5 separate regions of the Homo sapiens genome follow, and all the other regions are linked to region 3. The links come from fine-mapping of genetic effects on gene expression. A gene starts in region 3. Each other region holds a variant in brackets. All regions are shown on one strand. Distances are between the middles of the regions. Region 1 overlaps ZAN (zonadhesin). Region 2 has its middle 22 kb from the start of NYAP1. Region 3 holds the start of ZCWPW1 (zinc finger CW-type and PWWP domain containing 1). Region 4 holds the start of SAP25 (Sin3A associated protein 25). Region 5 overlaps CYP3A43 (cytochrome P450 family 3 subfamily A member 43).

Region 1 (5,100 bases), 320 kb before region 3:
ATGTGTGGTTGCCAGGGGCTGGGGGAAGGCGGAGTGGGGAGTGGCTGCTAATAGGTATAGGATTTCTTTTTGGAGTGATGAAAGTGTTTGGATTAGAAAGTGATGATGGTTGCACAACCTTAGGAATATACTAAAACCCACAGAATTGCTTTTGCTTTTTTTTTTTTTTTTTTTTTTTAGGACGATGTCTTGCTCTGTTGCCCAAGCTGAAGTGCAGTGACACAATCATGGCTCACTACAGCCTCAGCCTCCTAGGCTCAAGTGATCCTCCCACCTCAGCCTCCCGAGTAGCTGGGACTACAGGCGTGCGCCACCACACCCAGCTAATTTTTTTTTTTTTTTAATTTTAAAGTGGAGACAGGGTCTCACTATGTTGCCTAGGCTGGTCTCAAACTCCTGAGCTCAAGCAACCCTCTCGCCTTGGCCCCCCAAAGTGCTGGGATTACAGGTTTGAGCTACCGTGCCCGGCCTAGAATTGTACACTTTAAAAGGGTGAATTTTATGAAATATGGATTATATCTCAATAACAAACAACGAGAAGGAAGCCTCGTGGTTCAGTCCTGACACCCCCACCCACTCCAGCCCTGCCATCCCTCTCGCTCTGGGCAGTCCTCCCCATTTCCTCTGAAGTCGCCATGGACTACTTCAGCTCTCCTCTGAGAGTACTAGAAGCATCTAGAAGCAACTAGAAGGCTTCTACCAGAAGCATCCCTTTCCCTGACTGTCTCCTAGTCATTGTCTCTGACTTTCAGCCTTGGCCCACGCTCCATCCACCTCATACCTGTACTGGATCTGGAGGTTGTGGTAGTGCCCAGAATCACACTGGTCATAGGGGTACTTGGAGCATGTGGAGACATCACCAAGGCTGCCAGCCCAGTGGCTGTGGGGCTGGGATGGGGTGGCCTCAGGGCTGTGAGCTTCTCTGTGGGAATGGTGGGTTTTTCTGTGGGGATGGTGGGTTTTTCCGTGGGGATGGTAAGTTTTTCCGTGGGGATGGTGGGTTTTTCCGTGGAGATGGTGGGTTTTTCTGTGGGGATGGTGAGTTTTTCTGGGGAGATGGTGGGTTTTTCTGTGGGGATGGTGAGTTTTTCTGTGGAGATGGTAGTCTCTTCAGTGGGGATGGTGGGTTTTTCCGTGGGGATGGTGGGTTTTTCCGTGGAGATGGTGGGTTTTTCTGGGGAGATGGTGGGTTTTTCTGTGGGGATGGTGAGTTTTTCTGTGGAGATGGTAGTCTCTTCAATGGGGATGGTGGGTTTTTCCGTGGGGATGGTGAGTTTTTCCGTGGGGATGGTGAGTTTTTCTGGGGAGATGGTGGGTTTTTCTGTGGGGATGGTGGGTTTTTCTGTGGAGATGGTGGGTTTTTCCATGGGGATGGTGAGTTTTTCTGTAGAGATGGTAGTCTCTTCAACAGAGGTGGTGGTTTCTTCAGTGGGGAGAGTGGGTTTTTCCATGGGGATGCTGGGTTTTTCTGTGGAGATGGTGGTCTCCTCAGTGGGGGTGGTGGGCTCTTCTGTGGAGATGGTGGGTTTTTCTGTGGGAATGGTGGGTTTTTCTGTGGGGATGGTGGGTTTTTCTGTGGGGATGGTGAGTTTTTCTGGGGAGATGGTGGGTTTTTCTGTGGGGGTGGTGGGTTTTTCTGGGGAGATGGTGGGTTTTTCTGTGGGGATGGTGGGTTTTTCTGTGGGGGTGGTGGGTTTTTCTGGGGAGATGGTGGATTTTTCTGTGGGGATGGTGGGTTTTTCTGTGGGGATGGTGGGTTTTTCTGGGGAGATGGTGGGTTTTTCTGTGGAGATGATAGTCTCTTCCATGGAGATGGTGGGTTTTTCCGTGGGGATGCTGGGTTTTTCTGTAGGGATGCTGGGTTTTTCTGTAGGGATGACAGGCTCTTCCATGGAGGTGGTGGTCTCCTCAGTGGGGGTGGTGGGCTCTTCTGTGGGGACGGTGGGTTTTTCTGTGGAAATGGTGGGTTTTTCTGAGGGAATGGTGGGTTTTTCTGAGGGAATGGTGGGTTTTTCTGTGAGGATGGTGGGTTTTTCTGAGGGAATGGTGGGTTTTTCTGAGGGCATGTTGGGTTTTTCTGAAGGAATGGTGGGTTTTTCTGTGGAGATGGTGGGTTTTTCTGTGGGAATGGTGGGCTTTTCTTTGGGGACTGTGGGCTTTTCTGTGGTGACACTGGGTTTTTCTATGGAAACTGTAGGTTTCTTGGTGGAGATTGTAGGGTTTTCTGTGAGGCCAGTGGTTTCAGAAGGGCCAGTGGAAGAAACTGGAGATACGGGAGGAAGCTCTGGTAGCACTTTTACTGCAAAGAAAAATAAGAATCCCTGGAGTTTAGTCAAAACCATACCACCACCCTCTTTACTGCCATCTAACTGGAGTGGGCTCCCATGGGTGGCTTATTCACACCTCTCTTTCTACTCCCAAACCCCAACCTTCATCCACTCAACGAACACTAATATATGTCAGATATTATGCCAGAAATGAATAGGATATGGGTCCAGCCTTCAAGACTGCAGAGGAAGGAGTTCTGGATCCAGCCCCCAAAATCCATGGTATCGAAGCCACATTCACCCAGGCAAACATCTTGAAGTGCAGGGGAAGGAGAGGTGTGTTGAAGATGGAAAACAAAGCCAGCTGGGTGAGAATTCGGGCTCCAGGGAGGACTCACATTTTAAG[C/G]AGTTCATAGAGAGAACTCCAGGGAACCTCAGGGCACCGCCCCCTTCCTGGAGCCTGGGCTTTGGTCTTACCTGGACAAGTCCCAGGATTGATCAAGATGAAACCCATAGCAACCACAGAGGCCGTGTTGCTTCCCTGGATGCCCTTGAAAATAAGCTAAAGGCGACAAGGGAGAGAGACGGAGAGAGAAACAAAAATGAATCTCCAGCAACTCTGTGATTCCACTGGGCATAGAATCTGTTCTCTGCCAAAATGTCGCCTTGTTCCAGCCTCAACAGTCCAGCCCCATCCCGGCCCCTTTCTCACTTTCTGTAACACGAAGTTCCCCTTTTCTCGGCTCTCTTTCCAGCTTTCCACCTCTTCAGCACTGGTGGCGCCCCCAGATCCCAGGCATTGGCCCTCTCACCTCACACAGACAGGACCCCCGCCTCCGTCTCTCACCTGCATGGGCTGTTGGTGTCCTGAGGGGACGGTGACGGAGGTGTTCTGCCAGTAAGGGCGCTGAGACCCCACGCGTTTCCAGAGAGGAATCGGGGGACTCCCCGCAGGACTTCCCAGGAGGAGTTCGAGCATAGTACCCTCCCCAAGGCCATACATGTGGTATGCGAACTCCACGCAGATGTCACCTGGGGCGCAGAAGGGCCGGCTCACCAGTCTGACTGACTGGCCTGCCTGGGAGAACTCGTCAGCCTCAAGGTAGATATAGTGACCCCCTAGGCAAAGGAAGGGAACAGGCAAGGTAAGAAGCCTGCACAGGACATGCCAACTGCTGCTTTAGCAAAGCTTTGCTTTCTGAACGGGAATCTGAGCAAACACTCAAATTTCCCAGGTCGTAGCATTATTTTTTCTGCTCATTTTAGACATCTAACTAAAGAAGGTGGGATCACAAAGAAAGGGAAAAGCGGCCAGGCACGGTGGCTCATGCCTGTAATCCCAGCACTTTGGGAGGCCGAGGCTGGCGGATCACGAGGTCAAGAGATCAAGGCCATCCTGGCCAACATGGTGAAACCCCGTCTCCACTAAAAATACAAAAATTAGCTGGGCGTGGTGGCCCGTGCCTGGAGTCCCAGCTACTCGGGAGTCTGAGGCAGGAGAATTGCTTGAACTCCGGAGGTGGAGGTTGCAGTGAGCCAAGATCACGTCACTGCACTCCAGCCTGGCAACAGAGCAAGACTCCATCTCAAAAAAGAAAAAAAGGGAATAACAAACCAGCAACCTAGATTACATTCATTAATGTCGTGTGTGTGTGTGTGTGTGTGTGTGTGTGTGTGTGTGTGTTGTTTTTTTGAGATGGAGTCTCGCTCTGTTGCCCAGGCTGGAGTGCAGTGACACGATCTCAGCTCACTACAACCTCCACCTCCCAGGTTCAAGCGATTGTCCTGCCTCAGCCTCCCAAGTAGCTGGGATTACAGGTGTGTACCACCATGTCTGGCTAATTTTTGTGTTTTTAGTAGAGGTGGGGTTTCACCATGTTGGCCAGGCTAGTCTTGAACTTTCGGCCTCAAGTGATCCACCCGTCTCAGCCTCCCAAAGCATTGGGATTACAGGTGTGAGCCACTGCACCCCACCCTCATTATTGTCTTTTTAAAAAATTATTTCTTTATATATATATATGTGTGTGTGTGTATATATATATGTGTGTATATATATGTGTGTGTGTGTATATATATATATATATATATATATTTTTTTTTTTTTGAGACGGAGTCTCACTCTGTCACCCAGGCTGGAGTACAATGGCGTGATCTCGGCTCACTGCAAGCTCTGCCTCCCGGGCTCACGCCATTCTCCTGCCTCAGCCTCCCGAGTAGCTGGGACTACAGGCGCCCACCACCATGCCTGGCTAATTTTTTGTGTTTTTAGTAGGGACGGGGTTTCACCGTGTTAGCCAGGATGGTCTCGATCTCCTGACCTTGTGATCCGCCCTCCTTGGCCTCCCAAAGTGCTGGGATTACAGGTGTGAGCCACTGCGCCCAGCCTCTTTTTATATATTTTTAAGACAGAATCTTACTCTGTTGCCCCGGATGGAGTGCAGTGGTGCGATCTCAGCTCACTGCAGTCTCCACCTCCTGGGGTCAGGCAGTTCTCCTGCCTCAGCCTCCTGAGTAGCTGGGACTACAGGTGCACGCCACCACTCCCGGCTAATTTTTACATTTTTTTTAGTGGAGTCAGGGTTTCACTATGTTGCCCAGCTGGTCTCGAACTCCTGACCTCAAGTGATCCACCTGCCTCGGCCTCCCAAAGTGCTGGAATTAAAGGCGTGAGCCACCATGCCTGGCCTATTTTTTTATTTTTAATTTTTAGAGACAAGGTCTTGCTCTGTTGCCCAGGCTGGAGTGCACTGGTTCAATCATAGCTCACTGCAGCCTTGACTTCTGAGCTGAAGCGATCCTCCCACATCAGCCTCGCAAGTAGGTGGGACCACAA
Region 2 (5,100 bases), 77 kb before region 3:
AGCAATTCTCCTGCCTCAGCTTCCCGAGTAGCTGGGATTACAGCCATGTGCCACCACGCCCAGATAATTTTGTATTTTTAGTAGAGATGGGGTTTCTCCATGTTGGTCAGGCTAGTCTCGAACTCCCAACCTCAGGTGATTCGCCTACCTTCACCTCAGGTGATTCACCCTCCCAAAGTGCTGGGATTACAGGCGTGAGCCACCACACCCAGCCTGTTCTTTGCATTTTAAATTAAGGGGCAGGGCACATCAAACTATTTAATATGTGCAATGAACAATAAAATATATCCTTAGGATTTATATGGGGCAATTATAGAGCAAAGATACAGGAAGAGATCGATGTCAGGAGACAGTGTGATGGAGAAACAAAGGACAGAAGGAAAGAGAGGGGAAGAGATAGAAACAAATGCCAAGACCCAGGAAAACACAGAAAGACATAACCCAGCCTCATATAAACTCAAAGTGAGAAGGTGGAGAGACATAAAGAAATCCACAGGTGGCTGGGCGTGGTGGCTCACGCCTGTAATCCCAGCACTTTAGGAGGCCGAGGCGGTGGATCACCTGAGGTCAGGAGTTCGAGACCAGCCTCGCTAACATGGAGAAACTCCGTCTCTACTAAAAATACAAAAAGTAGGCGTAGTGGCACATGCCTGTAATCCCAGCTACTCCAGAGGCTGAGGCAGGATAATTGCTTGAACCCGGGAGGTGGAGGTTGCAGTGAGCTGAGATTGGGTCACTGCACCGCAGCTTGGGCGACACAGCGAGACTCCATCGCAAAAAAAGAAAAAAGAAAGAAATCCATGGGCTATGGAAGTATGTACGCTCACTCAGGCACACACCACCAAGCGTGATGAAGACCCAAGTCTACATAGATAGCACCTCACACTTTTGTTAAATAGCACAGAATTAAAGAATTATCCCAGCCTGGACAACATGGCAAAACCCTGTCTCTATCAAAAGTACAAAAATTAGCCAGGTGTGGTGGTGCGCGATGTAGTCCCAGCTACTTGGGAGGCTGAGGTGGGAGGATCTCCTGAACCCAGCAGGCTGAGGTTGCAGTGAGCCATGATCACACCACCGCACTCCAGCTTGGGCAACAGAGTGAGACCCTGTCTTACAAAAAAAAGAAAAAAAAAAAAAGAAAAGAAAGAAAAGGAAAGGAAAGGAAAAGAAAAGAAAAAATGATTGTTGAGGTAGGAGGCAAGACTCAACTCCAGAGGCAGGGCACGGACACCAGACCAAATTGAGGACCAACTAAAAATGGGTTGGGACAGAAGCAGCTTTCCATAAAGACATCCCTTCCAGAGTGCCATGTCAGTTTACCGTTGCCATGACAACACCCAGAAGTTATCTCCCCTTTCCATGGCAACCACCTACCGACCTGGAAGTTACCACCCTCATCCTAGACATTTCTGCATAAGCCACCCCTTAATTTGCATATAATTAAAAATGGGCATAAATGAGTTTAGGTCTGCCTCTCAGCTGCTATTCTGGACACAGTGCCTATGGGTCATCCCTGCTCTGCAAGGAGCCGTACCTTTGCTGCGGCTGTGCACTGAAGCTTCAATAAAAGTTGTAACACTGGCTGGACACGAGTGCTCAAACCTATAATCCCAGCACTTTGGGAGGTGGAGGTGGGCGGATCACTTTAGCTCAGGAGTTCAAGACCAACCTGGGCAACATGGTGAAACCTCGACTCTACAAAGTACAAAACATATTAGCCAGGCATGGTGGTGTGTGCCTGTAGTCCCAGCTTCTCAGAAGACAGGGGTGAAGGATTGCTTGAGCCCAGGAGGCAAAAGTTTCAGTGAGACTTGATCATGCCACTGCACTCCAGCCTGGGTGACAGAGTGAGACCCTACCTCCAAAAAAAAAAAAAAGTCTTGTTCTACCAGCTAATTGGATTGGCAGGGACCTCCTTTTTAATATATATATATAGGTATGTGCCACCGCACCTGGCTAATTTTTGTTTTTCTTTTTTTTTTTTTTTGAGATGGAGTCTCGCTCTGTTGCCCAGGCTGGAGTGCAGTGGCGTGATCTCGGCTCACTGCAAGTGGGTTCATGCCATTTTCCTGCCTCAGCCTCCCGAGTAGCTAGGACTACAGGCGCCTGCCACCATGCCCGGCTAATTTTTTTTTTTTTTTTTTTTTTTTGTATTTTTGGTAGAGACAGGGTTTCATGTGCTAGCCAGGATGGTCTCGATCTCCTGATCTCGTGATCCACTCACCTTGACCTCCCAAAGTGCTGGGATTACAGGTGTGAGCCACCGGGCCTGGCCTAATTTTTGTATTTTTAGTAGAGATGGGGTTTTGCCATGTTGCCCAGGCTGGTCTTGAACTCCTGGGCTCAAGTGATTCACCTGCCTCGGCCTCCCAAAGTGTTGGGATTACAGGCGTGAGCCGCCACGCCAGGCCTCATGAGTTTCTTATGTAGCTGTATCAAACTTGTTTCTCTTTTGAACTGTGATTACAGTTCCAGTGTTCATATGTTGCCCTGCAAGTAGGTTATAAGTGCA[T/C]GGGGGACAGGAACCAAGCCTTATCTACTGAAGAATCTTCCTCGGGCCCAGCTTCCAGGGAGGCTCTGAATTTGAAGCCCCTCTCTGCCATTCACTTGCTGTGTGACTTTGGGCAGGTTACTTGACCTCTCTGTGTGTCAGAGCTTTTATCTTCAGAGATACCACTGGGTTGAATGACATAAAATTGCCAATATTCTATTATATTTGACCCCAAAATGGCAATTTCATATAGTTCAACCTAATAAAACCACTACCTCTTAGGTATTTTGAGGGTTAATTGTCATGTCTATTGTACCCCAGGCAAGCACCATCCTGCTGAGTACAAAGTGGACCTGATAGTAAAGCCCCTCAGACTTTGTGGAACAAAAGCAGAACCCTAGGAACGGCAGAGCAACCAGTTAGAAAGAGCCTGGCTCCTGATGAACTGCAGCTTCCGTATCTGTTATGGATTGCTAATGTCTGGACCCTTATATGAGCAAGATGTAATCCCCCATTTAGGTTAAACCACTGTTCTTTGGGTCTGGGTTTTTTGTTTGTTTGTTTTTTCTTTGAGACGGAGTCTCGCTCTGTCTCCTCAGCTGGAGCGCAGTGGCGTGATCTTGGCTCACTGCAATCTCCGCCTCCTAGGTTCAAGCGATTCTCCTGCCTCAGCCTCCCCAAGTAGCTGGGACTAAAGGCGCCCACCACCACGCCCAGCTAATTTTTGTGTTTTTAGTAGAGATGAGGTTTCGCCATGTTGACCAGGCTGGTCTCAAACTCCTGAACTCAAGTGATCTGCCCCTCTTGGCCTCCCTAAGTGCTGGGATTACAGGTGTGAGCAACCATGCTCAGCCTGGGTCTGTTTTGAAAGAGGTAAACTGACATCTTAATTAATAATGGGTGTGTGTCAGAGAGAAATAAACCATGTACTTCCACATAGAGATTTCTGCCTTAAGGCCGGGCACAGTGGCTCACACCTGTAATCCCAGCACTTTGGGAGGCCAAGGCGGAAGGATTATCTGAGGTCAGAAGTTCCAGACCAGCCTGTACAACATGACGAAACCCCGTCTCCACTAAAAATACAAAAATTAGCCAGGCATGGTGGCGCGCGCATGTAATCCCAGCTACTCGGAAGGCTGAGGCAGGAGAATCACTTCAACCTGGGAGGCGGAGGTTGCAGTGAGCCAAGATTGCACCACTGTATTCCAGCCTGGGTGACAGAGCAAGACTCCATCTCAAAAAAAAAAAAAAAAAGTTTCTGCCTTGGGAGACTGAATGTGATGACACTGGCTGAGATGGTCAGTCCAAGACATGAGGGCTGGTTGGGGAAGTAATGAGTTCAATTGCAGATAGATTTTTGTTTTTGTTTTTAGAGACAGGGTGTCTGCAGATAGATTTTTGTTTTTGTTTTTAGAGACAGGGTGTCTCGCTCTGTTGCCCAAGGTGGAGTGCAGTGGTGTGATCATAGCTTACTGCAGCCTTGAAATCCTGGGCTCAAGCGATCCTCCCACCTCAGCCTCCTGAGTAGCTGGGACTACAGGCATGTGCCACCACGGCTGGCTAATTATTATTTTTTATTTTTTGCAGAGACGGGGGTCTCTCTATGTTGCCCGAGCCAGTCTCGAACTCCTGGCCTCAAGTGATCCATCTGCCTCAACACCCTAAAGTGCTGGCACTATAGGCATGAGCCACGGCACCCAGCCACTGTAAGCCTTTTTGCTTCACCTAGCCACCAATCTAAATGGGGGGAAGTGTTCTCCATTTTTTTAGATTTTCATATCTGTAAGTAGACCAACCATGACAGCTTTACGACCCAAATACAAGGCTACATTTGATGTTACTAGCGAGCAAAATAACTTCAGATCTACATGGGCAGTGAAATAAATAGTGCGCATCTTTAAAATTTCCCCTCTAGTTCTAATCTTTTCAGGTTTCCCCCTCATTACTCTGAAATTTCTGGAATGTGTACATGTTGCTCTCACACCCATTCCTGGGCTTTAAGGCAGGAACATCAAAAAACATCAGCATGAGGTCACCACTTGGTCAGTGGAAAATTTTTTTTTTTTTTCTGAGATGGAGTTTCGCCCTGTTGCCTAGGCTGGAGTGCAGTGGCGTAATCTCAGTTCACTGCAACCTCCACCTCCCGGGTTCAAGCAATTCTCCTGCCTCAGCCTTCCAAGTAGCTGGGATTACAGGAGCGTGCCAGCATGCCCAGCTAATTTTTTGTATTTAGTAGAGTTGGGGTTTTGCCATGTTGGCCAAGCTGGTCTGAAACTCCTGACCTCATGATCTGCCCCCCTTGGCCTCCTAAAGTGCTGAGATTACAGGCATGAGCCACCGCGCCCGGCGGGTCAGTGGAAATTTTTTTAAATGGTGGTGACACCATCTCTGGTGCTTCCACCCTGTGGCTCCTGGCTCCCAGCCATTTTTCATGGTGGCAAAGACTGCCCCCAGGGTGGTGGCAGAGGTCAGTGTGTGGCCTGGACGAGTCCCAGCCAACATGCTCCTCACCCCATCCTGGACGCAACGTGGAGGTGGTAGAGAGAGAGGAGCAAGGGAAGCTGGACCCCCGCAGAGTGGACCACTACTCTACAGGGACATGCATG
Region 3 (5,100 bases):
TCCCTCCGGCTGCCTGCTGCTGCTGGTGGTGCTGTCCCCGGTGTCTATGCCGCTTCCGACCAGTCTTGAGTGGCGAAGCAAGAACTACATGGCCCTCATCAGTGCAAGTATTGAGACTGAGCGGGTCAGTAATATCTTTGGGGATGAGGATCTCCACCGGATCTCGCCCTTTGGCCGGAAGGGGGGATGACTTAGGGGTCTCCGCGTTGAGAGTGCGGCTCACTTCCTCATCCAGGAGGCTATTCAGGTTCAGGGGATCAAAGATATTGCCCCCCAGGAGGAAGTTGGAGGGTAACACAGAGTCACAGTCCGAATTCACCCGCCTGCGCCTCTTGAAGGCCGGATGTTTGAAGCCTCCCCCGCCTCCCCCTACATTACAGCTATTTCTCCTCTTGCCCCCGCCCCCCCCAGGTGGCCGGTGGGGCTGATAGCCATTGCGGGGTCGAGGAGGAGCAGGGGGACCCAGCTCTGTCCCGCCCCCTCCCCGGCGCTCCTCCCCCACGTCCGGGGGAGCGGCTCGCCCCGGGGGATCCGACAGGCGGGCCTCCCCATGCGACTGCGCCTGGGGGCCGCCCCCTCGGTGCTGCTGCGCCTGGGGACCACTGGAGGAGGTGGCCGCGGCCCCGGGGCTTTCCCGACCGACCGCAGCGGCTGGGGACCCCGCAGATGGCGCGCAACGACCCGGACCACGCTCCGTCCCGCCGCGGAGCTCCCCAGAGGCGGCCTCTTGGTGCGGTGGCACCGTGGGGCCGCCCCCTCCGCCCGACTCATCTTTGAGCGGCGGCGGCGGGGCCGGCACCAGAAACGGCTCCTTCTCCGCCGCCATCTCGATCATTTCCTCCCCTTATTCCGTGCCAGTCGGGGTAACGAGGGGGATCAGGGGGCCTAACCCCCCCTGCCTGGACCCTGCTCCCTTCCCCCCTTTCCCGAGTGCGCGCGCAGCTCTGCTCTTCACGCCTAGTCTCGCGCCCAAGCGCCTCCCCGCCAAGTGCGCCCTACTAGCCCGCGAGACCAAAACAAGAGGCCCGCGAGACCCGAACTACTCGAGGACTCAACCGCGCGTGCGCCGACCCCTTTCTCCTCCGCCACTACCACCCGGCCGCGAGCGCGCACGGTGAGCGCGCGTTCCCTTCGCCCGGGAACCACGCATGCGCACTCCGCCACCACCCTGGTTGCGCGCGCATCAGACTACGAACCAACTTAACGGCTCTGGGAGTTTAAATATAACCCCCCCACAGCCCCCGCAAAAGCCCACCACCCCAAACTGACACCCTACTTCCCTGCGCAGCTATGTCCGGCCCTACTGATCTCCTTTGTCTCTGCCGCGCGATCCCACCCACCGTAGGCGGGGGACGGGAGCTGGTGTGAAAAGGTCTCCTTGACACCCGACCCTTGTTCCTGAGGAATGAGTCTCAGCGGTCTCCGCCCGGCTCTAAATCCAACAACCTCCCCACCCCGCCTCCTTCCTCCCCCCTAGTGGGCAGCGCCTGCGCACACCCTTTTGGGCTTGCGCGGGTAGAGGCAGCACGTGCTGAAACTGGCGCCCCGCCCCCCGTCTTAGGGGTTGGGCCTGTGACGTCGCTTCCTTAAGTTTGGTAAACGCAGCGTGCGTCAGCGCGATCCGGAGGGGCGGGGCTTCCTGACGAAGGGCGGGGCTCATGAATTATTCATGAGCTGTTGGTAGCAAACCTCCCCCCCTCTGCCCACCTTCTTAGAAGCGCTTCCGAGGGAGCGGAGGGGAGACCCTACAAAGCCAAGGAAGGGCGGGAGTGGAACTGGGCTCAGTAAAACGCGATAGGTCATTATAACTCACCCCCCTTGAAAATATTCTCTGCTGAATTGGGGAAAAATAAAAAGCACTAAAACAGCCGATGTTGTCCAACTTCCTCTTCCCCCGAAACGGCTGAGTCGTTCTCTGGCTCCTCTACCTTCCCCCAATCGCAATCACCTGGAGACGCCACACCACGCCTTCCTCTCCGCCTCAACACCCACGACCCGAACCCCAACGCATCCGCCCACTCCCGACGCCCGCTCACTGGCCCGTCAGTTCGCGGGCCTCTCAACACCCACCGCGGCGCCACGCCGACTTATATACCAGCGAGTGTGGGCGGGGACGGGGGTTCGGTCCGCGCTGGGCCCCCCCAGCTTCTGCCAATGAGGAAGAAGCGAGTCTACGCCGTTTTCCCGGGGAGATGCGCCGCCCGGTCTCCCTGCCAGCGGAGTGCTGGGCCGAGGACAGGGCGGCAGGGGTGACAGTGGGGTCCAGGAGAGTCTCAAAATCCTAAGGTGAGGGCGTGAAGGAGACCAGCAGGAAGAGGAGGAATTAGAGAACGGAAAGAGGGAGGAAAAGGCAGTCTGAAACAGAAAAGTTAGTAGATGTGCTTCAGGAACAATCAGGCGCCGCGGCCGCCGCCTAAAAATATGTGACACCAAAGAGGATTCTGGGATTTGTAGTTTTCCCGGGACGTTCGGGTGGAAGATGGCGGATTTACCTCAGCTGCGGAAACGCAGACGCTGTTTCCAGTTGCGCATGCGCCTCGGCCCCGCGAGCGCACCGCCCTCGGGTGGAGCTAGTGCTCAGGGCGTCCTCGTGCCTTTTCTTGGTGGCGGGAAACCTGGGTTGAGGTGTGAGGGGCTTGCGGAGTCGCTGCGGCAGCTGGTTCCGCCCATCGCCTTTAGGTCCTCCTTGCTCCTGAAGGTAGCCAGCTAGTTTCTGGTTGTAGGTGAAGGTGCTAGGCGCTGCCAGTCCTGGCACCCGTTGCCTGAGGAGAAACTTTCTCAGGGCGACAACCAGCCCTTCGCCCTTTTTCCTCAGAATCTGTCGCCCCCAAGAAACAGACAAAAAAAAAATAGCCCAGTCTCCTGGCGGGCACCAACGATATGAGTGAGAATAAGGATCACGGGGCCTCGGCAGGAGTGGGGGTGGAGGGGAGATTCCCTCATGGTGGGAGGAAGGAAGGGAGGGGACGGGGAAGAGAGAGGGGGACGTGTGGCTCAGGGACACCGACTTGAACCGCTATCCCTGAGAGAGAATAAGGGGTGAGGGAAGAGAGGAAAAATGGGAGCGCCCCACAAATGGGAAGAACTTCTCTGCAAAACTTCTTCCCTTTGGATTGCAGGTGGATTTGGAATTGGGGCTTTTTTTTTTTTTTTTTTAAAGACTGTCTCGCTCTGTCGCCCAGGCTGGAGTGCAGTGGCGCAGTCTCGGCTCACTGCAACCCCCACCTCCTGGGTTCAAGCGATTCCCCTGCCTCAGCCTCCCGAGGAGCTGGGACTACAGGCGCCCGCCACTGTGCCCGGCTAATTTTGTATTTTTAGTAGAGACGGGGTTTCTCCATGTTGGCCAGGCTGGTCTCGAACTCCTGACCTTAGGTGATCCGCCCACCTTGGCCTCCCAAAATGCTGGGATTACAGGCACGCGCCACCGTGCTCGGCTGATTTTTTTGTATTTTTAGTAGAGACGGGGTTTCACCGTATTGGCCAGGCTGGTCCCGAACTCCTGACTTAAGGTGATCCACCCGCCTCTTCTTTCTTGTTAAAAGTTTTAAATCGGGCTTGCTGAGCTTGTGCACAAACACGAAGGAAGAAAGCAAGGGAGGGAAGGGGGAGGAAGGAAGGAGGGAGGGAAGGGGGAGGAAGGAAGGAGGGAGGGAAGGGGGAGGAAGGAAGGAGGGAGGGAAGGAGAAGAGAGAGAGGGAGGGAGGAAAGGGAGGAGGGAGGGAGGAGGGGGAGGAAAGGGGAGGGAGGGAAGGAGAAGAGAGAGAGGGAGGGAAGGAGAAGAGAGAGGGAGGGAAGGATAAGAGAGGGAGGGAGGAAAGGGGAGGGAGGGAGGAGGGGGAGGAAACGGGAGGGAGGGAAGGAGAAGAGAGGGAGGGAGGAAAGGGGGAAGGGAGGAGGGGGAGGAAAGGGGAGGGAGGAGGGGGAGGGAGAAGGGAGGGAGGGAGAGGAAGGAAGAAGGAGGGGAAGCAGGGAAGGGAGGAGGGGGAGGGGGGTAGGAAGGAGAGGGGGAGGAAAGGGAAGGAGGAGGGGGAGAAAGGAGAGGGGGAGGAGGGAGGGAAGAGGGAGAGAGAAAGGGAGGAGGGCAAGGAAGGAGGGGGAGGGAGAGAAGGAGGGGGAGGAAGGGATGGAGGGACAAAGGGAGACAGAAGGAGGGAAGAAGGAAGAGAGGGAGGGAAGAGGGAGGAAGGAGTAAAGGAGGGAGAGAGGGAGGGAGAAAAAGTGAGAGGGAGGGAGGAAACTGCTATTAGTTAATTGAGGCATGAAAATAAGCAGGAGTCCACATACTGTTATTAATGCAAAAAGGAAGATCAGACTCTGGCTTAAAAAAGATTTGAAATATACTTTTTTTTTTTTTTTTTTTTGAGACAGAGTCTCACTCATTTTGCCCAGGCTGGAGTGCAGTAGCACGGTCTTGGCTCACTGCAACCTCCACCTCCTGGGTTCAAGTGATTCTCCTGCTTCAGCCTCCCAAGTAGCTGAGATTACAGGCGCCTGCCACCACGCTGGCTAATTTTTGTATTTTAGTAGAGATGGGGCTTCACCATGTTGGTCAGGCTGGTCTTGAACTCCTGACCTTAGGTGATCCACCTGCCTTGGCCTCCCAAAGTGCTGGAATTACAGGCGTGAGCCACTGCGCCCGGCTGAAATATACTCTTTAAATACCGCTTTTTTGAGGCTCAGGGAGTCTGGGTTAGAGGACAATGCTAAAGGGTTTACTTCTCTTAGACCAAGGATTTGAGGAACAATATAAGGAAGGGAATGATTGGATGGTTAGGAAGAGGAAATTTGGGAACACATTCTGAATGGTGTGTGGGGAGAGAGAATTACTGTTTATTTAAAAAAGTATTGGCAATACTGACAAGTTATTTCACTAGGTCAGTTCTCAAACTTTTTGGTTTGAGAACCCTTTTATACCCTTAAAATTTATGGAGGACTCCAAAGAGCTTTTATTTGGTTTGTATCTGTTGATACTAACATTTTAGAAATTAAAATTCAGAAACATTTAAAGTTTGATTAGAAATAACAATAATAAATATGTTAACCTAAACAGGTTTTTATGAAAAATACATTCTCCTAAACAAAAGAAAATTTAGCATGAAG
Region 4 (5,100 bases), 150 kb before region 3:
CCACGGCCACTTGGCTCCATTCAGAGACCAAACAGCTTCCTCTTCCGTTCCTCCTCTCAGAGTGGCTCAGGTGGGTGTCCTGCCCTCCCCAGTGCTGACCCAGTGCTTGCCAGCACCAACGGCTACATCACCCTTCTGCCCTGGGAGCCCTCTGGGTCTGTTGTACCTTTTGTACCTTTGCGTTGAAAATCCCACAAGCAAGCCGGGTGTGGTGGCTCACACCTGTAATCGCAGCACTTTAGGAGGCCCAGGTGGGAGGATCGCTTGAGCCCAGGAATTCAAGACCAGCCTGGGCAACATAGCGAGACCCCATCTCCATGAAATAAAAAAAAATCCCACAAGCAGAGAGGCAGGAGGTGTAGGTGCCAGGCCACTGGGACCCAGCTACAGAGTCAGTGGTGAGCAGTGGAGGCAGCCCCATGCCCCCCTTTTTCTCCTAGGCCCTTCCTCACCAGACTCTGTCCTGAGACCTCGGCGGTACCCCCAGGTTCCAGATGAGAAGGACTTAATGACTCAGCTGCGCCAGGTGAGCAGAGGCGGGAGCTGCGTGGGCAGGGGCCTGGGCCGGGCACCTCCTTGTGTTGCTGTCCTTGGGACCAGCCTCCCTCCACATCCTCTGTGCCCACTCTGGCACCTCCCCTGAGGACAGGAAGGGACAGGCACAAGTTCCCTGCTAGCCCTGAGCCCCCCACTCTCCCTGCCTCCCAGACGCCTCTCCTTCCCTGACCCCTGCTCTATGTGGTCTACACTGCCAGGTCCTTGAGTCCCGGCTGCAGCGGCCCCTGCCTGAGGACCTGGCCGAGGCTCTGGCCAGTGGGGTCATCCTGTGCCAGCTGGCCAACCAGCTACGGCCGCGCTCCGTGCCCTTCATCCATGTGCCCTCCCCTGCTGTGGTCAGTTGGGGCTGGGGAAGAGGTGGGGGATGGGCCGGGGCGCCTGTGGCCTCTCCCTTACCACATTTTCTTCTTTCACCCACCCCAGCCAAAACTCAGTGCCCTCAAGGCTCGGAAGAATGTGGAGAGTTTTCTAGAAGCCTGTCGAAAAATGGGGGTGCCTGAGGTATGGGGGCTGCTTTCTAAAGAGTGGTGGCATGCCGGACTCAGCCGAGCATGTGGCATGGATGGTGGGCTTCCATTTGCAGCGGATGTCTGCTCTCAGATGAAGGCACAGGCTGCCCCTGCCCTGCCCAGCATGCCCCCTGCCCTGCATGCCCCCTGCCCTGCATGTCACCTGTCCTACACATCCCCTGCCCTGCAGGCCCCATCTTGTCCTGCATGTCACCTGTCCTGCACATGCCCTGCCCTGCACTCCTCCTGCACTGCACTCCCCCTGCCCAGCACGTCAGCATGTGGGCGTGGTTCTGGCCCCAGCACGTGAGGGCAGGGGTGGGAGGGACTGTCCTGCTGCTGCTGCTGACGTCTGTCCCTTGTCCTTGTCCACCTGCTCTCCTCTCCCCCAGGCTGACCTGTGCTCGCCCTCGGATCTCCTCCAGGGCACTGCCCGGGGGCTGCGGACCGCGCTGGAGGCCGTGAAGCGGGTGGGGGGCAAGGCCCTACCGCCCCTCTGGCCCCCCTCTGGTCTGGGCGGCTTCGTCGTCTTCTACGTGGTCCTCATGCTGCTGCTCTATGTCACCTACACTCGGCTCCTGGGTTCCTAGGCCCCAAAATCGGCCCTCCCTCACCCCTTTCCCTTCCTCTCTATTTATAAGGTCCCTGCTCCACCCGACCCCACCTGCGGTGCCTTCAGCCCCAACCAAAGACACTAGTGCACCCCCTTCACAGACACTGACCTCAGAGGCCCCACTCTGGTGCCCCCAGACCCTGGGCCCCCAGCCTCTGGCCTCCCTCCAGTAGCCCCACGAGTCCCCACCTCTCAGTGCTGACGGTGCCTTCATGTCCCCGCCGGCCCTGCCCCTGCCCTCTGTACCCCGTGAGGGGTGGCAGGAGCTGGAGTCTCCCCCTTCCTCCTGTGCCCTCCCCTTCCCCCCCCAACAGCTGCTATGGGGGGGCTAAATTATCTCTATTTTGTAGAGAGGATCTATATTTGTAGGGGTTCGGGGCCCAGGCCGGGTCCCTATCTCTGTGTATAAACTGTACAGACCGTGGCCGCCCTGCCTGTGTGTGTGTGTGTGCGCGCGCGCGCGCGTCTGCTCCGCGTGTTGGTGGCTGTGGCCATGGCTCTGTGCCCACCAGCATCTCCCTCCTGAGATGCCGGCCTCTCATGCTCCCGGAGCGTCCGCCAACCCCCCGTGTCACCTCCCTTCTGTTATCGCTGACAGCTTTCTTGCGTCTCATTTGTCGCCGAGCCCCGAGCGCACGGTGATGCTCGGGTCTGCCCCCGACCCCCTGCCACAGGCCGGAAGCCGCAGGGGGCACCGTGGGGAAGCTAACCCGGCCCCTTCCCCCAGGAGTCACTGTGCCAGCCCCACCACATCCTGGAAGAGGAGGGGGCCCCGGGAAGGGGCCTCCCCTACATCGCTGCTGTCGTCCACGCCCTGCTGGACCGGCCTTAGGGGTGAAGGTGGGGGCACAGGGCCCACCCCGCCCGGGACCCCGGGAGCAGAAGACGCGCCTGGGCTCCGCGCTCTCAGAGAAGCACGTGGTGAGGGTGGCCTGGGCCTGGGCACCCTTGGCCTGCCGGCCTGGCTGCCTCTGGGGTCGAGGGTCTGGGTGGAAGGACCGCGGGTGTCGCAGGTGTCGTGTCAGCCGCAATAAACAGAAGCCAGAAG[C/T]CCTCTGGGTGGCCCTCAGGTGTAACTGTGTCTGAGAGCACGTGCGTCGCGGGGTTGTTGGGGGGGCCTCTGTTTCCGGAATTCACCGCCCAGTCGCCAGGGGGCGCCCGCGGGAGCCCGGCGGGGGCACGCGCCACGTGGCCGGGAGACGCACAGGGCGCCAGCGTCGCCGCGAGGCCTCTGGGGTGGGTTCGCCAGGAGGGCACGTTCGCGCCGCGCCGCGGAGGGAGGCTGAGAGGGCCGGGCCGGGCGGCGGGGACACGGCGGTACCGTCCTGCGCTCGGGAACGCGGAATGTTGCCCTGGTCGCCGCCGCGGTGGGGCGCGGGCCCGGAGGAGGCGCCCGAGGGACCAGGCCTTCCGGCGGGCAAGGACCAGGGCGAGCCCTGGAGCGCCGGAGCGGACGCCCCCAGGGAGCTGGGGACACCCCCATGGGACAGGTGAGGGGCTCGGACGGAGCCGTGGGGGGACAGCGACTGGGGGCCTCCATGCCTTCACCACGCGCTCTACGGAGGCTTCTCCATTGTCCCTGCTGGAGATTGGGTCCCTCGGTCTCCCTTGCACCAGGCACCCTTGGGCTCCAGGGGAGGGTGCGTGGGGGCGGTGTGGCTGCAGCCTCAGTCCCTGCCCCTCCAGCCCACAGCCCCCATCCCGTAGCCCTTCCTGGATCTGGAGAGAGCAGCTGCTGCTGCCCCACCACCTGCCAGGCCCGGCCACTGAGCAGCCCCCCGGAGCCCCAGGTAGGACAGGCCCTGCTGCCTCTACTACCCCTAAGAGCCTCTCACTGACTGTGAGCCTGTTATAATCCCCAAGCGTCCCCCCAGATCCCCGTTCCCCCCAGGTGGCCTGGGAGGTGGCCCCCTCGAGGATGACTCCACTAGCGCCCTGGGACCCCAAGTATGAAGCCAAAGCAGGACCTCGGCCGGTGTGGGTGAGTTGGGGGCAAACCTGTGGGACTGGCTGGGGTGCTCAGGGAGCTGTGCGGTGGCCTGAGGCTCCAGTGCTCTGTCCTCCTCACCCTAGGGGGCCAACTGTAGCTCAGGAGCCTCGTTCTCAGGCCGGACGCTGTGTCACCCCTCATTCTGGCCGCTGTATGAAGCAGCCTCGGGCAGGGGTCTCAGGCCCGTGGCCCCTGCCACAGGGCACTGGAATGGACAGCAGGCGCCCCCAGATGCAGGTACCTCCCTTGGTCCCCCGGGGGCGCAAGGCTGCCCCAACTCCTCTGGGAACCAGTGCCCAGGGGTGGGAGCCCGCAGCCCGCCACCCTAGTGGTGTTTCCTCCTAGGGTTCCCGGTGGTGTGCTGTGAAGATGTCTTCCTCTCGGACCCTCTGCTGCCCCGGGGGCAGCGTGTTCCCCTGTACCTGTCCAAGGCCCCCCAGCAGGTGAGAGCTCTTTCCCCTCCCTGTCCTTACCCCAGCCTCCAGGCTTGCCTGGCAGGAAACACATTCCATTCTCTCTCCTCAGATGATGGGCTCCCTGAAACTGCTGCCGCCGCCCCCCATCATGTCTGCCAGGGTGCTCCCCCGCCCATCACCCTCCCGGGGCCCCTCCACTGCCTGGCTCAGCGGGCCGGAGCTGATCGCTCTCACTGGCCTGCTGCAGATGAGCCAGGGGGAGCCTAGGCCCAGCTCCTCCGCGGTTGGCCCCCCAGACCATACCTCTGACCCACCCAGCCCCTGTGGTAGCCCCAGCAGTTCTCAGGGTGCTGACCTCTCTCTCCCACAGACCCCAGACACCCATTGTCCATAGCCTTCTCAGGGCAGAGTGGGCTGGTTGTGTTGACAATAAAACAGTGTTGGTTTGCAAAACAGGCTCCGTGTGGCTGGGAGCAGAGTAAGTCATAGAGGCAGGAATGGGGTCTCTTTCTGTCTCACTGCAGATCACCCCCTGCTGTGTTAGGCGGAGGGCGAGGGTATCCATGACCTAAGGCATTTCTGGGCTGACTGGGCAGAGCCCCTTTAATGAGTGGGTGGGTGGTCTGCATGGCAGTGCAGGGCTGAATGTATAGGAAGCAGGCGGGGGAGTAAGTAGGGGCACCTCACTTTTAGGGGACACTAGCCCCACACCTCTTGTGCTGGGGCTCCAGGAGTTCAGTTCTGGGCTGGGTGGGGTAGTTGTCTGGCTCAGAGGAGACACAAAGAATGCACTGCAGGTGTGTGGGGGAGGGTGCCGGTCCATGTAAATGTCACCACTGGCAGAAAGGTGGCCCTGCCGCAGCCTACCTGAGACTCTAGAGATTCTTGCACGAACTCTGTAGAGAAACAGGATCAGGGTTTCAGCTGAGAAAGCCCAGAAGTGTGTAGTCTCGGTGGTTTGGGCGGGGATAGGTTCTAGAATTTTCTCCCATAAAATAGCCCAACTTCTTGGAGAAC
Region 5 (5,100 bases), 570 kb after region 3:
GGTTGCCCTTCAAGCCTGGAATGTGGCTATGCCTGTGTGCTTCTAGAAAGTGCCTCCAGCTATCATTTATAACATCCAAATGTGTGCCTTTCTGCAATGTGGAAGAAATTCTCATTTTCCTGGAAAACTTTCTGCACATTTTCAGAACAGGGCCTTCTCTCTGAGTGTCCCCATCAGTAGCCCCCAGATGCAGTTCTTGGTTACCTTTATGGGACTTTGTTTCTTTGGAATTCTGGGAGTCGATCATCTGTTGAAAGAAATCTACTCGATGCTGGAAGCAAAAAGAGAAATTTTAATGACAGAAAGTCACTTGTGAAGTCAGAAGTGAATCAGGAGTCCAGTCCTAAGCACCCCTCCTGAGAATATGCTCTCTTTAAGTTCAGAAGTGTAATGGGTGTTGCCTGAGTCACCAATGTTTAGAATAAAATCATGCATCTAAAACCTTGGAGAGCAGGATGTTTCCTTGAGAGAAATCCTTTTGTCATGTCTATCTGCTTTTTAGTCTTTGCTCTCCCTGATCCTCAGCTTCTCTGGCCTTTGGACACAACTTCCTGGCCAAAGAGTTGTCAGCTCATTCTCTAGTCATAATTTCTTGAACAGGAAGAAGTCCTGAATTTCAATCCTATTTGTTCTGCTGCTTTTATTCTTAACCAATGGACAAATAGATTAATCTCTGGATAATCCCAGGGGAGCTGATTTGAATGCATCTTCAAATACTCCCCACTCCTAGAACTCTATACAACGTTCAGTGTCACCTAGGGGACCCAGTCCTGCATTCCTGACTTTGAGGCATCATCATCGGGCTGGTCTCCAGGGCTCATAAAGGCAAAGTTGGATCAGTCAGCTTGCACCCACAATGCCCAGAGAAGACCCCTGCCCAGTCCAGGCTATGACAGGACTGAAATTTAACATACACTTACTTCTGCAGGTAGCCTGGTAGGGACTCCTGCTGAAGAAGGTGTAAAAATAACAGGCTTGGACTTGAAATGATTCCTTACTAATATAAGAACTAGGGAAATTGTAATACCCATAAAATAATTTTATCAGTCATTTTTATCCAGTCAGATTTATTGGCAACTTTATACAGTCAAATTTATTGACAATTTACTGAAAGGAAGAGAAGCGGTAAAGCTTCTATCTCTACATTATTTATGCCATAATATACTAAAGTCATGCCTATTATTAAATTCCAAATGCTGTTTCACTCATTCTCTTTCTTCCCCAAGCTTCACCTTCTTTATTCCCAGCAAAATGTAAAAACCCTCTTGGTCTAAAGTTCTCTAGCTGCCTTTAAAAAACACAGATAAGTGCACAAATCGTATGTAAACAGCCCAAAAATATAATAAAAAAGTGAACATTCTCATGTCACCACCACCAGATTTTACCTTTTGTTTATCTTTGAGGCGACTTTCTTTCATCCTTTCAATGGAATTTTTTAAAAAATGGGTAACATCTTTTGGAAACAAACCGATATTTAGGGCTTCAAAAACTGGGGTAAGAAATGGAAAGAGTGCTATAGGAAAATTAAATAGAAAAAGAAAAAATAAATCATAGTGAAAAATGTGAAATTTACCTACAACAATTACAATTTTCTCTACCTATAGACTTCAGGGTTCTCAACCAGGATCCATTTCCTGTATGACCTTTGCCCCTCTTCCTGTATGACCTTTGCCCCTCTTCCATGCCAATGGCTGAGCAAGAGCAGATCCACACATAGGGGCCTCCACTATAGCAGTGAGATCAGTGGTCCCTTCTGCATCTTCAGAGTGACCAAAGGAACAGAATTAAATTCCCTGACTTCTTAGCCTTTATCTACTGGACTAGAGTCTCTTTGGATAGCCTGCTGCTTTAATGAATCATGTTTTTCCATGAAATAGTAGTCAGGATAGAAACAATACGGCAAATGTCCTTCAACTACCATGGAATGAAACTAGAAATCAATAAAAGCAAGAGAATTGCACTTAGGGAGGCTGAGGCAGGCAGATTGCTTGAGGTCAGGAGTTTGAGACCAGCCTGACCAACATGGCGGAACCCCATCTCTACTGATACAAAAATTAGCCGGGCATGGTGGCATGTGCCTGTAGTCCCAGCTACTTGGGACCCAGTCATGAGAATCGCTTGAACCAGGGAGGCGCAAGTTGCAGTGAGCTGAGATTGTGCCACTGTACTCCAGCCTGAGTGACAGAATGAAAATGTCTCTCGAAAGAAAAAAAAAAAGAGAGAGAGAGAAAAGAGAATTGGAAAACTCACAAATATGTGGAAGTTAAACAATACACTTTTAAGTAACCAATGAGCTGAAGTAGAAAGCAAAAGGACAATTAGAAATTGTTTTGAGATGAAGAAAAATGAAGACATGATATGCCAAAGC[G/A]TATGGGATGTAGCCAAAGCAATGTTCAGAGGGAAATTTATAGTTGTGAATGTCAGATAATCTCAAATCAATAACCTAAATGTATACCATAACACACTGAAAAATGAAGAGCAAAGTAAAACTAAAGCCAGCAGAAAGGGGGAAAATAATAAAAACTAAAGTGTAACCTAATGAAATACAGATTTAAAAGCAATAAAGAAAACCAAAAATTGGTTCCTTGAAAATATCATCAGCCGGGCGCGGTGGCTCACGCCTGTAATCCTAGCACTTTGGGAGGCTGAGGCGGGTGGATCACCTGAGGTGAGGAGTTAGACCAGCCTGACCAACATGGCAAAACCCCGTCCCTACTAAAAATGCAAAAGTTAGCTGGGCATGGTGGTGGACACTTGTAATCCCAGCTACTCAGGAGGGTGAGAAAGGAGAATTGCTTAAACCCGGGAGGCAGAGGTTTCAGTGAGCCTAGATCACGCAACTTTTTTGAGACTCTGTCTCAAAAAAAAAAAAAAATTATCAAAACTCAAAACTCATGGACATAGAGAGTAGAAGGATGGTGACCAGACTCTGGGAAGGGTAGTGGGGGCGGGGGAGGTAAGGATAATAAAAGGTTACAAAAAATAGTTAGAAAGAATGAATAAGACCTATGGTTTGATAGCACAACAGAGTGACTACAGTCAATAATAACTGTACATTTTAAAATCATTTAGAGTGCAATTGGAATGTCTGCAATTCAATGGATAAATGCTTGAGGGGATGGATTCCCCATTCTCCATAATGCTCTTATTTCACATTTCATGCCTGTATCAAAACCATCTCGTGTACCCCATAAATGCATACACCAACTGTGTATCCACAAAAGTTAAAAATAAAAAATAAAGCTCAAGGCTGGGCGCGGTGGCTCACGCCTATAATCCCAGCACTTTGGGAGGCCGAGGCAGGTGGATCACCTGAGGTCAGGAATTCGAGACCAGCTTGACCAACAGTAAAAACCTTGTCTTTACTAAAAATACAAAAATTAGCCGGGCATAGTATTGCATGCCTGTAGTCCCAACTACTCTGGAGGCTGAGGCAGGAGAATAGCTTGACCCCAGGAGGTGGAGGTTGCAGTGAGCCAACATCGTGCCATTGCACTCCAGCCTGAGCGGCAAGAGCAAAAGTCCATCTCAAAAAAAAAGCTCAAATTTTACCACAAAAGAAAATATCATCAAAATTGGCAAACTTTTAGCTACATTGATGAAGAAATAAGAGATGACTCAGTTTACTAGTCTCAGAAATAAAAGAAGGGAAATAATTACTATTGACATTTAAGAAAAATAAAAATTAGCATAAGGATATTCTCTTAACAATTTTATTATTAGAACAATTGTATAAATTAGATAACAGGTAAAATGGATAAATTCTTTGAAAGACACAAACTACAGAAACTGAGTTGGAAAGAAACAGACAATCTGAATAGATCTATAACATATAAAGGCATTGAATCAGTAATCAAAACTACCCACAAAGAAAAGGCCAGGCCAGATAGTTCCAATAATGAATTCTACCTAATATTTAAAGGAGAATTAATATCCATTCTACAAACACTTTCAAAAACTAGGAAATGAGGGAACATTTCCAAATTCATTCTATAAGGCCAGTATTACCATCATATTAAAACTGGAAAAATATATCACAGGATAAAGAAACTACAGACTAACATATCTTGTAAATATAAATGCACAAATCCTTAACAAAATACTAGCAAACTGGATCAATCTAGCAACATATAAAAATAATTATATACCATAACCAAGAGGGGTTTACCCCAGGGAAACAAGGTTGTGTAATATACCATGTCAATTAAATGAAAACACACAATCGTCTCAGTATGAGTAAAAGCATTTGACAAAAATCCAAAAGACTTTTGTGATAAAAACACTCAGCAACTAAAAATAGAAGAGAATTCTTCCACCTGATACAGGGCATCTATGAAACCCATAGCTAACCATACTTAGTACCTTTCCCCCTAAGATCATGAATGAGACAAGGATACCTCTCTCAGCACTTCTATTTACCTATTAAAACTAACAAATGTGTTCAGAAATATTTGAAGATAGAAGGTCAATATACAGAAATAAACTGTATTTCTGTACGTTACAATATACAATCCAAAAGTGGAATTAAAAAATTGTATTTACCATAACATCAAAATATTAGTGATACACTTATCAGGAATAACATTAACAAAAGTGCAAAACCCAGACTCTGAAAAATACAAAACACTGTTGAAATAAATGAAAGAGTATCTAAATAAAAGGAATCACCACCCCGTGTTCACAGATTAGAAAACTTAAAAAGGTCAAAATGGCAATACTTCTCAAATGGATCTGCAGATTTAATGTATTATCAGAATCCTAGCTAGATTCTTTGTAGAAATTGACAAGTTGATTTTAAAATTGATTTGGAATTGTAAGGGATGCAGAGTAGCCAGAACAATGTTGAAAAAGAATCAAGTTGCAGGACTCATACTTCCCAATTTCAAAACTTACCACAAAGCTCTAATAATCAGGACAATGTGATACTGGCATAAAGATAGAAGTATAGTTCAACAGAATAGAATTTACAGTCCAGAATACATCCACATGTCTCTGGTCCACTGAATTTTGAGGAAGGTGTCATGATCATTGAATGGGGACAAAATCGTCTTTTCAACAAATGGTCCTAGGACAACTGGATAGCCAAGTGTAAGAATAAAG

The links.
Region 1: its variant is fine-mapped to the expression of ZCWPW1 in amygdala (GTEx, PIP 0.95).
Region 2: its variant is fine-mapped to the expression of ZCWPW1 in whole blood (INTERVAL, PIP 0.97).
Region 4: its variant is fine-mapped to the expression of ZCWPW1 in whole blood (TOPMed, PIP 0.99).
Region 5: its variant is fine-mapped to the expression of ZCWPW1 in whole blood (INTERVAL, PIP above 0.99).

What each region holds. Positions count from the first base shown.
Region 1 is chr7:100,748,911-100,754,010 of GRCh38, reverse strand. ZAN (zonadhesin) reads right to left here. Exons shown (of 48, transcript NM_003386.3): 12 at 3,115-3,386; 13 at 2,745-2,829; 14 at 782-2,299. Among named protein-coding and RNA genes, the nearest start is that of ZAN, 18 kb to the right of the region's middle. The variant C/G (reference allele first, on the strand shown) is at 2,674.
Region 2 is chr7:100,502,970-100,508,069 of GRCh38, reverse strand. No RefSeq gene overlaps it. Among named protein-coding and RNA genes, the nearest start is that of NYAP1, 22 kb to the right of the region's middle. The variant T/C (reference allele first, on the strand shown) is at 2,516.
Region 3 is chr7:100,425,754-100,430,853 of GRCh38, reverse strand. ZCWPW1 (zinc finger CW-type and PWWP domain containing 1) reads left to right here and starts at 2,151. Exons shown (of 18, transcript NM_001386010.1): 1 at 2,151-2,286. MEPCE (methylphosphate capping enzyme) reads right to left here and starts at 1,023. Exons shown (of 4, transcript NM_019606.6): 1 at 1-1,023. The coding sequence starts at 835. RefSeq lists enhancers at 124-203, 1,074-1,213, 2,234-2,463 and silencers at 334-803, 2,624-2,673.
Region 4 is chr7:100,571,664-100,576,763 of GRCh38, reverse strand. SAP25 (Sin3A associated protein 25) reads left to right here and starts at 2,864. Exons shown (of 6, transcript NM_001348680.2): 1 at 2,864-3,167; 2 at 3,364-3,467; 3 at 3,552-3,658; 4 at 3,751-3,904; 5 at 4,013-4,110; 6 at 4,193-4,536. The coding sequence starts at 3,022. The coding sequence ends at 4,477. LRCH4 (leucine rich repeats and calponin homology domain containing 4) reads left to right here. Exons shown (of 18, transcript NM_002319.5): 14 at 1-70; 15 at 441-526; 16 at 756-893; 17 at 982-1,059; 18 at 1,460-2,753. The coding sequence ends at 1,657. RefSeq lists enhancers at 892-1,445, 1,446-2,000, 4,932-5,100. The variant C/T (reference allele first, on the strand shown) is at 2,729.
Region 5 is chr7:99,852,004-99,857,103 of GRCh38, reverse strand. It overlaps CYP3A43 (cytochrome P450 family 3 subfamily A member 43), which reads right to left. Exons shown (of 13, transcript NM_057095.3): 8 at 1,386-1,513; 9 at 205-271. Among named protein-coding and RNA genes, the nearest start is that of OR2AE1, 22 kb to the left of the region's middle. The variant G/A (reference allele first, on the strand shown) is at 2,369.